4 separate regions of the Homo sapiens genome follow, and all the other regions are reported to be linked to region 2. The links are microRNA targets in miRTarBase. Many come from high-throughput screens and were not tested one by one. Region 2 holds a microRNA gene; each other region holds the end of a gene's coding sequence.
Evidence for each region. Region 2 holds the annotated microRNA hsa-miR-374c-3p (CACUUAGCAGGUUGUAUUAUAU, at 1,670-1,691, shown strand). A microRNA usually pairs through its seed, bases 2 to 8, with sites in the 3' UTR of a target mRNA and lowers its output. Matches are read on the target gene's strand: a 7mer-m8 pairs with bases 2 to 8, a 7mer-A1 pairs with bases 2 to 7 and ends in A, and an 8mer does both.

Region 1 (4,000 bases), not on the chromosome of region 2:
ATTTTTCCCCCCTGGAGCTATTAGGGAAGAAACACTGTCTTTCCACAGGCTGGTAGGAAAAAGTCCAAAGCTGTTGGCAGTCGTATTGTCCCTATTAAACTAAAATGAACTCAGCAAGTTGGGGCTGAGACCTGGAAAGGGACACGTTCCCAAAAACCCTGCGCACCAGGATCCAGCTGCCTCTGAAGCTATCCCTGGAAGTTTCCGTCTTGTGAGGGTAAACTCTACTTTTTCTGCTCTATTTAGCCAGTTTTTGTAACTGGCTGATGAAGGAGTCTCTTGGTTGATAATACACCTTTTTTTTTTTTTTGATACGGAATCTCACTCTGTCGCCCAGGCTGGAGTGCAGTGGCATGATCTCGGCTCACTGCAACCTCCGCCTCCCGGATTCAAGCGATTCTCCTGCCTCAGCCTCCCGAGTAGCTGGGACTACAGGCGCCCGCCACCACGCCCGGCTAATTTTTTGTATTTTTAGTAGAGACTGGGTTTCACTGTGTTAGCCAGGATGGTCTCGCTAGCCTGACTTTATGATCCACCTGCCTCGGCCTCCCGAAGTGCTGGGATTACAGGCGTGAGCCACCGCGCCCGGCCACCAATCTCTTTTTAAACTGTGCTTTTGCGAGTGGAGCAGGGGCAGTCTTAGCTTTGGAGGAAGCTCTGGACAAGCCCATCATCCCAACAAAAACCATTTTGTCCTTCTTAGAGCTTAGGACCTGGGGGACGCCCAACAAAAATCAGTGGCCCTCTTGACCCCAAGGAGCACATTTAATGACAAGATTTTTCTTATTTTATTTTTTTACTTTAATAGGACCAACATTTTCAGTGCCTCATAGAGGGACATTTCTGGCCATAAATTAGTTCAGAGTGATGCCTCTCTAGCGCCACCTCTGGCCTCTCTGGGCTCTTCCCTGGGGACTGATGCTGGACTAGATGAGCTTATTTTGGTTACGGAAATCTCTGGAAGGTGGGGAACCCCAAGAAAACACAATTCACACACTGTGGTACACAGGCTTACTTAAAACCATTTTTATTCTGCCTCTGAGCAACACTTTTCATTTGATTTGGGTAAAAGACCAGGGACCCAAACACGCACAAACAAAAAACAGGATGTCAGAAACAGAAATCAGGGTCCAATCTATTGGAATGATGCTAGAATCTCTGTGTGCTGAGATTTCGTGTCCCTGATTCAACGTCCTCCTGGGACAAGTGCTGGCTCATCACAACATCCGGGTAAAATGACAGGTTGAATCTGATGTTCATCAGAATTTTTTTTTTTTTTGCTAGGGTTCAGTATATGAAAAAATGCTGAAATTTGTATTGGTATAGTACTTAGAATTCTCCCCGCCAATGGTTAGTCACAACTATTACAACAATTAATTCTCATAACAGCACTGTGAGGTAAGTAGGCAGGCATTCTTATCCCCATTTTGCAGGTGAAGGAATTTTAGGCACAGAGAGGCTATGAAACTTGCCTAAAATCAGCTTGCATAGCTAGTTAGTGGCCAATAAAAACCCTGCAAAAACAAAAGGGCGTTGGAACTAGGTATTGACTCTCAGCCTCTTATTCATTCAATTAGAATAATCTGCCTTTCTTTTTTCTTTTTCTTTCGTTTTCTTTTCTTTTTTTTTTGAGATGGAGTCTTGCTCTGTCACCCCGGGCTGGAGTGTAGTGGCACAGTCTCAGCTCACGGCAACCTCCGCCTTCTGGATTCAAGTGATTCTCCTGCCTCAGCCTCTCTATTAGCTGGGATTACAGGCATGCACCACCACGCCTGGCTAATTTTTGTATTTTTAGTAGAGATGGAGTTTCACCATGTTGGTCAGGCTGGTCTCAAACTCCTGACCTTAAGTGATCTCAGCCTCTCAAATTGCTGGGATTACAGGCGTGAGCCACCACGCCCGGCCAGCATAATCTGCCTTTCTTTTGCTTCATTATCACCATCTTTCTGACATTAATTCTTTGAAGTGACTTTTGCCACATATACTTATCTGGTGTGTTAATTACTTGATATTTTCTTGAGTTCTCTTGTTTTTCTTAATTTATTTGAACAGAAACAATATGTCACATCCCCCACTGTGGGAAGCTGTAAATGGAAGGTAATAAATAAAATAAATACCATGACACAAAACAATATCATTAAATTCTATCTAGACAGAAGACTCTGAGGCCTGCTCTTTCTTTGCTAAAAAGGGAAAAGAGCCATAGTGTCTGAAAGGTGTAAAGGACCTGCTAGCACTAAACAGAGACTTTTTCCTTGCTGTAATCAGGATGAAAAAAGAATAGAAAAGGGGAAACATTCTTTGTGATTTGGTATTACTTAATGTTGTTCCTAGAAACTACTTAAAAATTATCTTGTGTACCACCAGTGGCACACCCCTTGTGCTCTGTGAGACACTGGGTTACTGCGTTCTGGCAGGCAGAATAATGGCATCATTAAACCAGTACATTCACATCTAAAGGGTTTACATTTGACAGAAAAGAAACACAATGGGTGGCATTTCCAGGTGGCATCCAGGAAAATCAAAGATCTTGCCTGAGACTTGCTAGAGATAGGAGAGAGAGTGAGAAATTGAAAAAAAAAAAGCACATTCTATAAATACAGCCAGTTTATTCCCAAAACTGGGATACAGGAAGTGCTCATGTACCTAGAATTGGCCACTAAGTCCATTCTCAGAGCCTGTTTGAGTGAAGAGTGAGGTTTTGGTCAAGTTGACCAACGTGGATGCAAGCAAGGGAGGGGGCCTATTTGGAAATATAAGCATCAAGACAAAAGGCCAGAAAAGCCCCTTCTTTGAGTGTTTGATGACCAGATGGGTGAACTCTGGGCATGGGAGTGCTGACTCCCAGAGGAGGAGTTACTGAAGGTTATAAGAATAAAAGGAAAAGCAAATCCACAACTTGAACTCTACTAGACAATTTTAAACATGCTGCAAATGTTTGTGCTCAACATTGTAAATACCAGCACCTGCTGCTCTTCCTAGAAACCTCCATCTCCCCCTATATGGAGACCCCCTGGATCCCCTCAGTGAAAAGTTATGTGATTTCCTGAGGCTCGCCTCTGGAGGACAGGAGTGGACACAACGGGATTCGCTAAACTGAGACAGTGAGACTTCATTTTTCTTTTTTCTGTTTTCTTTTCATTTTTACAAATCAATGACTTTGGCTGATCCGGCTGTGCAGCTTGGATTGCCTAAATTTTGGACTTTTTTTTTTTTTTTTTCTTGTTCATTTGCCAGGGACCTGCCTCTGGAGAGTCCTGGAGGAAAAGATCTCACAGTCTGAAGTCAAGGATCCATTCCTTAGAAACTCCTTTGGGGTGTGTGTGGATGAGGTCCATCCTCCACGCTCACAGCCCACTGACCGCTGGTTCCTCAGGCACTGTGTGGTACAGACAGAGAGAGAGAGAGAAAGACCGTGGGCTGAGCTTCTGTGGTTGGCTTTCCCAGCTCGATGCCTTCCTTATTTGATGATGATGACTCTGGTTAAACACATGTTGAAATGTACCAGCCTGCGTGCACACTTTTGACTCTAAGCAGGGGCTTCCTTTTGAGAAACATATTCTATTTGTAAAACTTATTTTATCTTACATGTGGTACGTGCAAAAAAACAAAAGCAAAAACAGGCCAGGCATGGTGGCTCACGCCTGTAATCCCAGCACTTTGGGAGGCTGAGGCGGGTGGATCACGAGGTCAGGAGATAGAGACCATCCTGGCTAACATGGTGAAACTGCATCTCTACTAAAAATACAAAAAAAATTAGCCGGGCGTGGTGGCGGGTGCCTGTAGTCCCAGCTACTTGGGAGGCTGAGGCAGGAGAATGGCGTGAACCCGGGAGGCGGAGCTTGCAGTGAGCCGAGATTGTGCCACTGCACTCCAGCCTGGGCGACTGAGCAAGACTCCATCTCAAAAAACAAAACAAAACAACAACAACAAACAAAATGCGGATATGGAAAAATGCCTCTTGAGCATTTCCGAACCTCACTCTCCTCCCCAAGGATTA
Region 2 (4,220 bases):
ACCTGGCTAATTTTTGCATTTTTAGTAGAGACAGGGTTTCACCATGTTGGTCAGGCTGGTCTCGAACTCCTGACCTCAGGTGACCTGCCCACCTTGGCCTTCCAAAGTGCTGTGATTACAGGTGTGGGCCACCGCGCCCGGCCTTAGTTTGGATTCTTAAATCCATTTCTGTGTAACTCGTCTCTTGCTAGCTGTCCACCCCTCAATCAATCAAGGCAACCAAATACTGCTAGTGACAATGCCCCAAAACCACTTCATATTTTCCTGAGCTTCTAACCCAGTTTCAAACTCATTTCTTACTTTGATATACCATAAGCTCTCCTGTTAATGGTCTCACTCCAGCGTTTTGGCCTGAATATTCCTTAGGGACTCTGGTTCATATTTAGCCCTCTAGTATTTCTGTTCCAGCAGCTTTTGTCTTCATATTCCTGTTCCTGGTCAGCTTCCTCCCCATCATCCACCTCTACAATTACAAATCTTCACCACCCTTGCCAAGTCCTCTTCCTTACTCCTATCCCTATCTCTGTGCTCCAGCAAAGAGGTAGTTCCACTTACCTAAGGCTAACCCTCCACCTGCATGTGTTCTAGAGCCATAAATTTCACCCTTCCAGCTTCACCTGCATCATCTTTCAAGATCATCTTCCATCTATTATCATCTCTCTCTTTCTCACATCTACAATGACTCCCTTCTCAATTCCTTCTGCCCCATGGTCTGCAAACACACTCAATTTTTTTCTCATGTTAAATGATTCACTGTAAGGCGCTGGATAAGTGGTTTTAACTTGTATTCTGGTTGTCACATCTACAATCAGAAAAGCTTCTCACAAAATAATGATTAAGTACAATAAATAAGATAAAGAAAATATGAACCTGGTGAGAGGTGAACAGGACGGTGGAGGATTACCTGTCAGTGCAGGTAAGGGGATAGCTGGAGTAAAGTTGAAAGGGGAAAACTTTAAATATCAGCCACAGGAGCAAACCTCAGACTGTGAGGATGAGGTTTCTGTTCAGACAATGAGCACTCTGGTCCAACCCAGGGAGCAATTAGCAGCAATTACAGTAGCAGCAACAGCCATGCAACATCAGCAAGTAGCTAAGACCAAAATGCAGGCATAGAAATGAAGTATTTCATAGAAAACAGAGTAGCAAATATGACATATGAGGCACTTGTGCTGCTACTCCCCCTTCTCCGACCCTCAGCAGACATCACTAAATAGTTATAAATGTCTTTCACACTGAGATAAGACCTGGTTTCAGAATCTTGTTATAAAACATAATCAGGGCAGGCATTATCAATCAATTGGAGATGGTACTTGAGATGAAGTGTATTTGCTATCATTGCACTACACAGAAAAGTCCTCAACAAAAGAATTAGAAGACAGGAATAAGCTTCAGGAGTAAGCATTCTGAAGAGAGCTTGGACGTTGTTGGCAACTGGCGGGGACAAGCTGAGCCCATGGAGATCACAGAGCAGGCGCCCAATTAATGTCTGTTGATGATTCATTTTTTCATTCAACAAACATTTAATGAGGCCTACAATGTGCACCGGATTAGGCACTGTGAATACAAAGATGAGTAAGGCACTGTCCTTGCCCTTAAGGAATTTAAAGTCTGGTAGACGAGAGCCATAGACACGGACAATGATAATACAACCTGCTAAGTGCTAGGACACTTAGCAGGTTGTATTATATCCATCCGAGTAGGATTTCTTCAGAGGAGCACCACTCCAGGTTGCTGCTGGATCCATGAAGTCCTCCCAGGCACCAGGGTCTGCTGTTGTTTTTGTCACGTGCTGGGTGTCCCAAGATCTAACAATAATAGCTGTAATTAATGTATAGAGTGCCTATGACAAACACTTTACAAATATCTTCATGGAAACTCTGAAAATTAATAGTTATATTAGAGGAAGAAACTGAAGTTCAACAAGTTTAAGTCACACAGCCAGCAAGCAGTTGAATTAGGTTTCAAATCCAGTTTTGACAAAGTCTAATGCATTTTTCTGTTTTCAGGATAACCTTTATGCAGGTGTAATACAACAACTTTTCAACAGCTTTCTATTTGGAACTAAAAGCAAAGGCAATAGATTAGTCACTAGATCATGGAGTGATTAATTTGGTTTCCCACTCTACCTGGCAGAGAAATAAAAGGTGAAATGACCTCACACTTACATACCATTGAAAACCTTCAAGTCAGTTACTGTTTTTCTTTCTCAACCCTAACATCGTCACTGATCATTCAAAATATAAGTACCTCTAGTCAAATCTCTTCTTTTAATACTTGTCATAGTCAACACCATTATCAGCAACAACAGTTGACACAGCATTTAGCTGTATATTCCAGGCCTGTTCTAAGCAATTTACATAATTAGTCCCTTTAAGTACTTTTTACCCCCATCATTGAAAATAAATATTATTCCTATTTTACATAAGAGAAAACAGAGTCCTGGGGAAGTGAAGAATCATGCTCAAGACCACATTGCTAAGTGTGAGAGCAGATTTGAGCCCAGGCTACCTGGTCCCAAGACCCAAACTCTCACTTTACATAGCTCTGCTGCACTGCTCAGGGCCTCCTTTCCCAACTCTTGATGGCAAGTTACACAAGGCCCCCTGAAAAACCCAGTCCTACTTACATAAAATCTCATCACTAACCATTCTGGTCATAGAAAGCCATTCTCTAAATCCCAAATATCAATACTCAGAGCCTTAATTGGAAAATTTCCCGAAGAACATTGAGTTTAGAATATACCTTTGCAAAAAGAGAAAATAAACACTCGATATGTTTAGGTTTTTAATTATTGAATTTTTTTTTTACTTGCAGATATAGTCATAAACGTTTTAAGATCCATAAGCAAACTAAAGCAATTATGCCAATAATGACTAAGGCCACTGCTTCCTCAATTGAGTCTTTGATATAAAAGCCTTCACTTTTGGTTAATTACAAAAAAAAAAAAAAAAAAAAAAAAAAAAACCGTGGGAGATATGTGACAGTGAGAGTAGGCCTGCTACTGATGAGAAGGACCAGCAACTTAGCAACACCATAAAATGTCTGCTGCAATTCAGGTGTCTAGGTGTCTCCCTGAGAATCAACATTTCATATACAGCTGTTCCCAGAAAACAATCTTGCACAATCTGTACAGTCAAGTTATGATCTAAAAGGAGTTAATTGCAACATTCATCCAAAGAATATGACAGTATTTTTCATCAAGGTCTTTTTCTATAAGTTTTTCTATAACTTTTCCTATAAGTTCTATTATGTCTATACAGTCATGTGCTGCCTAACAATGTTTAGGACAATGATGAACCTCATATATGACAGTTGTCCCACAGTTGTCCCACCACAAAATCATATCATATTTTTACTGTAGCTTTTCTATGTTTATATATGTTTAGGTACACAAATACTTACCATTCTGTTATAATTGCCTACAGTATTCAGTACAGTCATATGCTGTACAGGTTTGTAGCCTAGGTGTGTAATAGGCTATACCATTTAGAGAGGTTTGTGTTAATATACTCTATGAAGTTCACATGACAAAATCGCCTAACAATACACTTCTCAGAACATATCCCCATTGCTAAGCAATGCATGACTAAATTTTTATAACTTCCTAAGAGGTTATCCCCTCTTCGCCACTCCCACTCCTTTCAGCCCTACATCATTTCTCATCTTAGCCACCACAGTATCCTTCTAACTCATCTCCCTGTCCAGATTTGAAAACATTCCTGAACACACCCCACACTACTGCCAGTGATCATCTAAAAGCATCCCTTTCTGAAAACACTTATAATGAAATCCAAATCCCATGGCATACCATATAAAGTTCTATTCCTGGCCTACATTTCCAACCTAATTTAGAGAACTATTTGTAGTTCCCCAAACTCATCATACTACTTCCAATGTCCATGCTTTTGCTTGGAAAGCCTTTCCCTGTTTTTCACCTAGTCAAAAGGTGACTTTACTTCTTTAAAGACTCAACTCATATACCAGGTACTCTGAGCTCTGTCATCTCCAGACTCTGTAAAATGATTTCTCTTTGAACTCCAGAGTATCTTATACATACCTCCATTGTAGAGCATACCATATTGTTGTAATTATATGTGTACATAGATGTTGATCTCTCTCACTAGACTGAGAACTCCTTGAGGACGGGGATGGTGTCTAATTCATCTCCATATCCCCACTACCCAGCACAGTGCCTGGCAGCTCAAATGACAGCAGAG
Region 3 (4,198 bases), not on the chromosome of region 2:
TCCCAGCTACTTGGGAAGCTGAGGCAGAATTACTTGAACCCCTGGGGGGAGGTTGCAGTGAGCTGAGATCTTGCCACTACACTCCAGCCTGGGCAACAGAGTGAGGAGACTCTGTCTCAAAAAATATATATATTAAAAAAAAGAAAAAAAAAAGTAAACTAGGAAAACACATCAGCAGCCTGCCAACAGACTCCCCTAGCCTCGGTGAGGGCCAGTGTTCTGGGAGGCAGATCTGAATTCTAGTCCTAGTTCACCCACTGGCAGGCTGGTGCCCTTGGGCAGGTCGCTTCTCTGGGGCTCAGTTTCTTCCTCTATAAAATGAGATCAAATCCCATGTTCTAAGAGTTTGTGCTCTGGAGTCAGACAGATCTGGGTTCTACCACTGCCAGCTCTGTGATCTTGTAGCTTCAGTCTCGTCATCTGACATGGAGATAACAGTAACTGTCTCACTGTGTTGTTAGGGTTTAAAGGAGATAATGTATGTGAAATGTTAGCAAACAAGTGTTAGCTACCCTGATTTCCGGTTTCAGAGTTCTGTGGTCCCAGTTTATGCCACATGCAGTGACGTTGTATGGTAGGCTGTGGTGTGGCACCACTTCAGAACTCAGCGCATGCACAGCTTGCAGAAGAGAAGGCCAGAGGAGACCTAAGAAGGCTCTTCGAACACTTGAAAGACCGGCATGTAGGCCGGGCGCAGTGACTCACGCCTGTAATCCCAGCAGTTTTGGAGGTCGAGGCGGGTGGATCACCTGAGTTTGGGAGTTTGATACCAGCCTGACCAACAAGGTGAAACCCCGTCTCTACTAAAAAATACAAACATTAGCTGGGCATGGTGGCGGGTGCCTGTAATCCCAGCTACTCCGGTGGTTGAGGCAGAATTGCTTGAACCCGGGAGGCAGAGGTTGCAGTGAGCTGAGATTGCATCACTGCACTCCAGCCTGAGACAAGAGCGAAACTCCATCTCAAACAAAACAAACAACCAACCAAACAAAACCAAAAAAAAAACTGGCATGTAGAAGAAAAATACTTTTTCTCTACACTTCTCCAAAGAATTTAACTAGGCCCAGGGGAGGTGCAGTATAAATTTCTAACAATCTCAACTGTCTGCCAAATGGAATGAGCTACTTCATATGGCAGTAGTGAGTCCTCTGTCTTTGGAGGCATTCAAATAAAAGCCAGATGGCCATTTATCAACAATCCATGTAAAACGTTAGATGAAATAAAACCTATATATCCAAGATCTCTTCCAATTCAGATTTTATGAAAGAATTTCTAAGGTCTTTGTAATGAGACATTTAGGCTGTTTCAAGAGATCAAGCCAAAATCAGTATGTGGGTTCATCTGCAATAAAAATGTTTGTTTTGCTTTTACAGTTTCCTCATTTGGCTGTTGGATTTTAAGCAAAAGCATCCAAGAAAAACAAGGCCTGTTCAAAAACAAGACAACTTCCTCTCACTGTTGCCTGCATTTGTACGTGAGAAACGCTCATGACAGCAAAGTCTCCTTATGTATAATGAAACAAGGTCAGAGACAGATTTGATATTAAAAAATTAAAGACTAAAAACTTAGTTTAAGAGTCAATTTAATAAGTTTAAAATAAATGTTTAGTTTCATTAGGATGATGCTATCAATATTTTCTTGGTTACAGACACATTATTAAAGTTTTGGGTTAATTTTATTGACAATTCTTAAGATTCTTTCTCATGCTTAATAAAGCATGCTACTCAGTTAACTCTTGTCTACATCAGCAAAGCAGATAATACAAAACAGGAAAATTACAAATCACTGATACTTAGTCCTTGTGGGAATCATGCTTTTCTCCCAGCAGTTTTACAAGGTGGCTGGCATTCCCTGAGCATATTCTGAATTGCACTGTGGGGAAAGAGGTTGTGCTCAGTTGTAGGGTGGGGGGATGCACTGCCTGAGGATTAAAAAACTAGTTCTGTGACCGTGAGGAAGTCGTTTAAATTTCCATGGTCTGTTCCCTCCTATGTGAAAAGAGAAGGTGGGCTTCAACCTCTAAGATCTTCTCCAGTTTTCACATTTTATGGACTTTTGTAGAAAAAACATCAGGAGTTCATGTGGGATGACAGCAAGTCATTTCTTTGAGGAGAGTCTTGATCACCAGGCAATATTCACAGTGTAGAGACTGTCAGATGACCATGGCTAGCATGGAAATGAGACCCACACATTTAAATCACCCAGCAAATATTCCGAAGGCTAATTGTAGCACATTTTATGAAAGACATTTCAAACTGTGGTCCTGAAGAGTGTATCCCATCTTGCAGAGGTGGGGAGCCTGGGGGGACAAGAGTTCTGAAGAGGAAGAGACAACAAGAGTTCCCAGTAGCTAATGTTTGTCATTCTAGTTGACCGTGCTGGTCTATTAGGCTAGTGGTTCAGTACACAGATGAAATGCAACATGGAACCCAGTTTATTATCAGAACAACTACAAAGAAATTGTCCCCTGTCTAAGACTGGAGTGTCAAGTCTCTGCCCTTTTTTCCTTTCCTTCAATGGTGGATGTGGAGTGACTGTGCATCCCACCAGAACCACGTGTCATGGCTGAGTCACATCTTCCTGCCCTTGGAATGAGAGGCACAGCGGAAGACCTTCCCATGGAAGGGACACAGGGAGCCTGGTGGCTGGACCATGGTGCTTCTCTCTTCCAACACGTCCACTCACCCCTTGGGAGACCCTCAAAAGCCAGTTACATTACATGTTCACAGAATTTTTGGTAAAAGTAAATACCAATTATAGTGAGGAAGAATTTTGACCACGGAATATTTTAAAAACTAAAAAATGTTTATATTTCATTTAACATTTGACACAGAAGAGACCACATTTGAATAAACACATTAAATCTTCAGAGCACTTTCATTGTGGTTTTGGACCTCAGATATGACAAATACTTACATTGACAAATCCATAATTTCTTTTGTAATTTCTTTTTATTTTTACAAATTATACCATGATAAAATTTGACAAAAATTATTCATGTGAAAGTTTCCTCTAACATTTTATAAGTTAATCAAGTGCATACCACAATAGATTTTTGGTTGTTGTTTAGGTGTTCTCGTGATTTTAGTATTACACAACTTTAAGCTGAGACTACACTCAGAAATAAGTTTAGAAAATGGCATTACAAAAGGTTGGGAGTGAGCAGTAAAAAAACAAACAAACCCATGCAGGGCTGTTGTGCTGTGGGAAATCAGATGTGTTCACTGCCATAAGTCTTCAGTGCGGCCAAACTTAAAAACCAGCCCTCTGTGAATAAAACAAGAAATATCACATGACTCCCTGAATTTGAGAAAAGAGTATGTGAGATTTCGAGAATGGTGTGAAACAAACAACGAAGAATAATTGATGAGTTGTAGAAGAAATTTTGGTACGAAATGTATCAAAACAGAAACTGATCATTCTAAGGTAGTGAATTCTTCCATTATGTTCAACTGTGCTATTAACCACCATATTCCCAACAACCTTAACTTTCAAGTACTGAATACACATGTGACTTTTAAAAAGTTACCAGTGTTTACTATGTAACCATTATATGTCTGATTTTTTTTTTTTTTTTTGAGACAGAGTCTTGCTCTGTCGCCCAGGCTGGAGTGCAGTGGCGTGATCTCGGCTCACTGCAAGCTCTGCCTCCCGGGTTCATGCCATTCTCCTGCCTCTGCCTCCTGAGTAGCTGGGACTACAGGCACCCGCCACCATACCCGGCTAATTTTTTGTATTTTTAGTAGAGATGGGGTTTCACCATGGTAGCCAAGATGGTCTCGATCTCCTGACCTCGTGATCCGCCTACCTCGGCCTCCCAAAGTGCTGGGATTACAGGCGTGAGCCACTGTGCCCAGCCCTATACGTCTGATTTTATCAAATTCATTCAACAAACTGTTTTGGTGCCAGGGCTATAAATAAGATACAAAGCCACTGCCCTCAAATTGCTCTCATTCTTGCTAACGTGATGTGGTAAGTGTGGGGGTGGTTGGGGAAGGAGACTTATATAACAAGTATTAAGGGGGCACAGAAACACAGAATTCGGTCACCCTGAATAAGTTAGAAAAGGATTTACAGAGGTGGTAATATGTGAGATGGGCTTTTGTGGAAAAACAGGGGTTTGAATGGGAGATTGGTAGGAACAAGACCTAGCGGGATGATGAAGGCAGGTGTTTCGGGGACAGGAAACAGTACATCA
Region 4 (4,178 bases), not on the chromosome of region 2:
GAGGCTGAAGTAGAAGAATCGCTTGAACCCGGGAGGTGGAGGTTGCAGTGAGCCAAGATTGCGCCACTGCACTCCAGCCTGGGCAACAGGGCAAGACTCTGTCTCAAAATAAATAAATAAATAAAAATAAAATCCTGGACTCAAGTGATCTGCCTGCCTCAGCCTCCCAAAGTGCTGGGATTACAGGCATGAGCCACCATGCCCGACCAACACCAGGTTTTAATTGATAAGTAAGCAAGGATAAGGAACAGATTCTGTACACACGGAAAAATACAGAGAAAATTATATGCTAGTGATTAAAGAAATGTCCATTTCACACTAGAATCATTTTTATGGACCATATCACACCTTATGATCCTGTTTTTCTACCCCTGTATTAGTCCATTCTCACACAACCACCACTATTAAATTAATTAAAAATAAGTTAAACCCAAAGTTGACAGAGCAAAATCTCTGCATCATTGTCAACTGGCTCCATCATTCTGAAGAACAACCTGATAATGTGCCAGGGCCAGTTTCTGCTGTAATTCAATAATTCCATTAGAGGGTATGGACTAAAATGTCATCACCCCTCACTTCTCACAGGCCCCTGTGCTGGTTTATTTATAGCACTTATTGTGGTCTAAGTTAAATATGTCCTTTGTCGATTCTGTTGATTGCCTGTCTTCTCTTCCAGAACGTAAGTTCTATGAGCTCTGCCAGTGACCTGGTTTGTCAGGTTCTAAACAAACAAGTACTTATCCCCACCCGCAATAGGTAGAGTATATAAAATTTATAACAGCATAATTGATAACTGTAAAAACCAGAATCTACATGCCCAGAGGATAACTAAACAAACTAGAATATAATGATAGCATAAAATGCTGAATAGCTTTTTTTTTTGAGACTGAGTTTTGCTCTTGTTGCCCAGGCTAGAGCACAATGGTGCATTCTCGGCTCACTGCAACCTCCGCCTCCTGGGTTCAAGTGATTCTCCTGCCTCAGCCTCCCAAGTAGCTGGGATTACAGGTGCCCACCACCACGCCCAGCTAATTTTTGTATTTTTAGTAGAGATAGGGTTTCACCATATTGGCCAGGCTGCTCTTGAACTCCTGACCTCAGGTGATCCACCCGCCTTGGCTTCCCAAAGTACTGGGATTACAGGCGTGAGCCACTGTGCCCCGCCCTCAATAGCTATTAAACATAAAATATTTAAGGGGAGGCTGAGACGGGAGGATCTCTTGAGCCCAGGAGTTCAAGACTACCCTGGGCAGCAAAGTGACACCCCGTTTCTACAAAAAAATTAAAAACAGCCAGGCATGGTGGTGGGCACCTGTAGTACCAGCTACTCAGAATGCTGAGGTAGGGGAGGATCACTTGGAATTCACGTGAACTAAGAAGTGCCACACTGCACTCCAGCCTAGGCAACAGAGAGAACCTGTCTCAAAAAAAATAGTGAAAACATCTATAAACTAAGTGAAGAAACATGATAGCAACATTTATGTCATGTAAAAAATGGTGCCTTGCCCATTCAAAATCGTAGCTCAAACGAAGTTTGCATAAATAATGAAGTCTTAGTCAAAGAATCATTAGATTCTTTAATAACTACTTTCTCTTAATTGCACTCATAACTTTCAAATATTCTATCAGGTCTACAGTATTTTGAGAATAAAAGCAGCTTACTGTTTCAGACGGATAACATACACAATGGTATGATTTGAAGAGAAGTGTGATAAATTTTTCCTAAAGACTAAAAATCCAAAAAGTTAAAATTAAACAACAGATATGAGCTGGGCGTGGTGACACGCACCTGTAATCCCAGCTACTTGGGAGACTGAAGTGGGAAGAGCCCTTGAGCCCAGAGAGTCGAGGCTGCAGTGAGCTATAACCACACCACTGCAGTCCAGCCTGAGCAACAGAGAGAGACCATGTCTCAAAACAAAGAAAAGAGGCTGGGCATGGTGACTCATGCCTGTAATCCCAGCACTTTGGGAGGCCAAGGCAGGCAGATCACCTGAGGTCAGGAGTTCAAGACGAGCCTAGCCAATATGGCAAAACCCCATCTCTACTAAAAATACAAAAATTAGCTGGGCACAGTGGCACGTGCCTGTAATCCCAGCTACTTGGGAGGGTGAGGCAGGAGAATAGCTTGAACCCGGGAGGCGGAGGTTGTGGTGAGCCAAGATCATGCCACCACTGCACTCCAGCCTGGGTGACAAAGCAAGACTCCATCTCAAAAAAAAAAAAAAAAAAAAAAAAAAAAAGGCCAGGCATGGTGGCTCACATGCCTGTAATCCTAGCACTTTGGGAGGCCAAGGCAGGCGGATCATGAGGTCAGGAGATCAAGACCATCCTGGCTAGCACGGTGAAACCCCGTCTCTACTAAAAATACAAAAAATTAGCCGGGCATGGTGGCAGGTGCCTGTAGTCCCAGCTACTTAGGAGGCTGAGGCAGGAGAATGGCATGAACCCGGGAGGCGGAGCTTGCAGTGAGCCGAGATCGGGCCACTGCACTCCAGCCTGGGTGACAGAGCAAGACTGTCTCAAAAAAAGAAAAGAAAAGAAAAGAAAATAACAGCTATGTAAGTTCCTTAGTATACAGCAAAATAGTATTATTTTTTCATTTTCTTTAAGATAAAATTCATTGTAATATAATTTATATACCAAAAAAGCAGCCATTTTAAGAGAATACACCTGGTGTCTACTCTGAGGTGACCTCAACTGAGGGGCTGAGTGGGACTAGTTGTCATCTACAGGATGCGGGGCAAGAGCCCACCTCCTGCAGTCTTCACAGGTGAGGGAGGCACCAGCAACTCGCCAAGGCCTGATCCGCCTGGCAGCAAGAACATCCCTTACCCCTCTCACCAAGACCATACACACCTGCGCCTACACAGGGCCTCATGTGGCCAAGGCCCTGGTGCCAGGCCCTTGATGGCTAGGATTTGTTGGCATAAAGGCAAGGCACCACAGAAACTGGAGAAGCCAAAGGTCCCCACCTTTGGGTGGGGAGCTGGCCTCTGGGTTCCATGACTGTCAGTCAGCAAGTGTGGACTGTGGAGTGAGGCACAGTTACTTACAGCCTGCTGTGCAGCCTGTGTGCTTCCAAACCTCTCTAGGTCTGTTTCCTCGCTGAACTCATAGGGAAAGGGAAAGTACCTTTCCAGGATGGAAATTGAACAAGACAACCCACAGGAAGCTCCAGTGTGGAAACTTACTTTATTCCAGCCATGATTATCCTAGTTGTCACCTTGCACACCTGCCATCCGGTGCCATCTCCTGGCTGGCACATCTATACCCACTCTGGCTCTGAAAGGCTTGTCAACCAAAAATGGGCAGCTGGGGCTAAGGCATATTTAAACAAAGGCTCCAAAGGACCCCTTTCACTTGGGTCTAGCATCCAGCCTCTCTCTCAGCAAAGGCAGGATTGTGGTCCCTTGTGTTTTCTGAACAGGGCCCAGGGCAGCCAAGGCATGCCATCACTGCAGCACTCAACCCTCTGGTCACAGTGGAGTCGCCGGTCCAGCCTGAAATATTACTACAGAGGAGAAAGACCCATTCTTGCTATGTTGCTCTATCTTCCACGTCCAAAAACAGTCCTATGTAGCTTCAGCTGCTCCGAAATCAGGTCACAGAACAGCAGGAGACATTCCTTTGGCAAAAAAGGACACGCTTTTGTCCTGTATCTTATACTGGTAAGTGAAGCTCTGATCCCGGTGGACTGCGGGCTGCGATGGTCTCCTCCACAGGATCCTCAGCTACAGAGACAGAGAAGAATGAAAGAGGAGCAGCCACCCCAGGACCTGCTCCACTGGGAACCCCACCCTACCTTCTCTGTGCCCTTCAGCTGAGGCCTCTATGAGATGATAGTCAGATGTGCCATCTGGTAATGGGGCCAACTTGTAAAATAAAGCCTATCACCAGCTAACTACAAATAAAGGGTTCCCCTCCATTACAGTAGTCATATTGGCTCAATACAGAAAATGTGAAAGAGGAAAAAAAAAGGAAACAGAAGGAAAAAGTCTTTCAGAGGAAGACCCTTAAAGTATTTTTATGTTTTTTTTTTTTTTTTTTGAAGCAGAGTCTCACTCTGTTGCCCAGGCTGGAGTGCAGTGGCGCAATCTTGGCTTACTGCAACCTCTGCCTCCTAGGTTCAGGCAATTCTCCTGCTTCAGCCTCCCAAGTAGCTGGATTATGGGTGC

Region 1: miRTarBase lists TMEM233 as a target of hsa-miR-374c-3p. Seed matches in the 3' UTR shown: 7mer-A1 at 1,327-1,333.
Region 3: the mRNA of TMEM50A is a reported target of hsa-miR-374c-3p. Seed matches in the 3' UTR shown: 7mer-A1 at 1,790-1,796.
Region 4: the mRNA of ELP6 is a reported target of hsa-miR-374c-3p. The part of its 3' UTR that is shown has no 7-base or 8-base seed match.

The regions. Positions count from the first base shown.
Region 1 is chr12:119,640,078-119,644,077 of GRCh38, reverse strand. TMEM233 (transmembrane protein 233) reads right to left here. Exons shown (of 3, transcript NM_001136534.3): 3 at 1,003-3,379. The coding sequence ends at 3,373. The region is part of intron 1 of PRKAB1-AS1 (PRKAB1, TMEM233 and CCDC60 antisense RNA 1); the gene reads left to right. Among named protein-coding and RNA genes, the nearest start is that of PRKAB1-AS1, 26 kb to the left of the region's middle.
Region 2 is chrX:74,216,918-74,221,137 of GRCh38, forward strand. It overlaps MIR374C (microRNA 374c), which reads left to right and starts at 1,632; the gene lies at 1,632-1,701. The region is part of intron 5 of FTX (FTX transcript, XIST regulator); the gene reads right to left. It overlaps MIR421 (microRNA 421), which reads right to left and starts at 1,544; the gene lies at 1,460-1,544. MIR374B (microRNA 374b) reads right to left here and starts at 1,701; the gene lies at 1,630-1,701.
Region 3 is chr1:25,359,729-25,363,926 of GRCh38, reverse strand. TMEM50A (transmembrane protein 50A) reads right to left here. Exons shown (of 7, transcript NM_014313.4): 7 at 1,566-3,267. The coding sequence ends at 3,222. RHCE (Rh blood group CcEe antigens) reads left to right here. Exons shown (of 10, transcript NM_020485.8): 10 at 1,374-1,678. The coding sequence ends at 1,400. Among named protein-coding and RNA genes, the nearest start is that of TMEM50A, 23 kb to the right of the region's middle.
Region 4 is chr3:47,492,464-47,496,641 of GRCh38, forward strand. ELP6 (elongator acetyltransferase complex subunit 6) reads right to left here. Exons shown (of 7, transcript NM_001031703.3): 7 at 3,177-3,734. The coding sequence ends at 3,606. Among named protein-coding and RNA genes, the nearest start is that of SCAP, 19 kb to the left of the region's middle.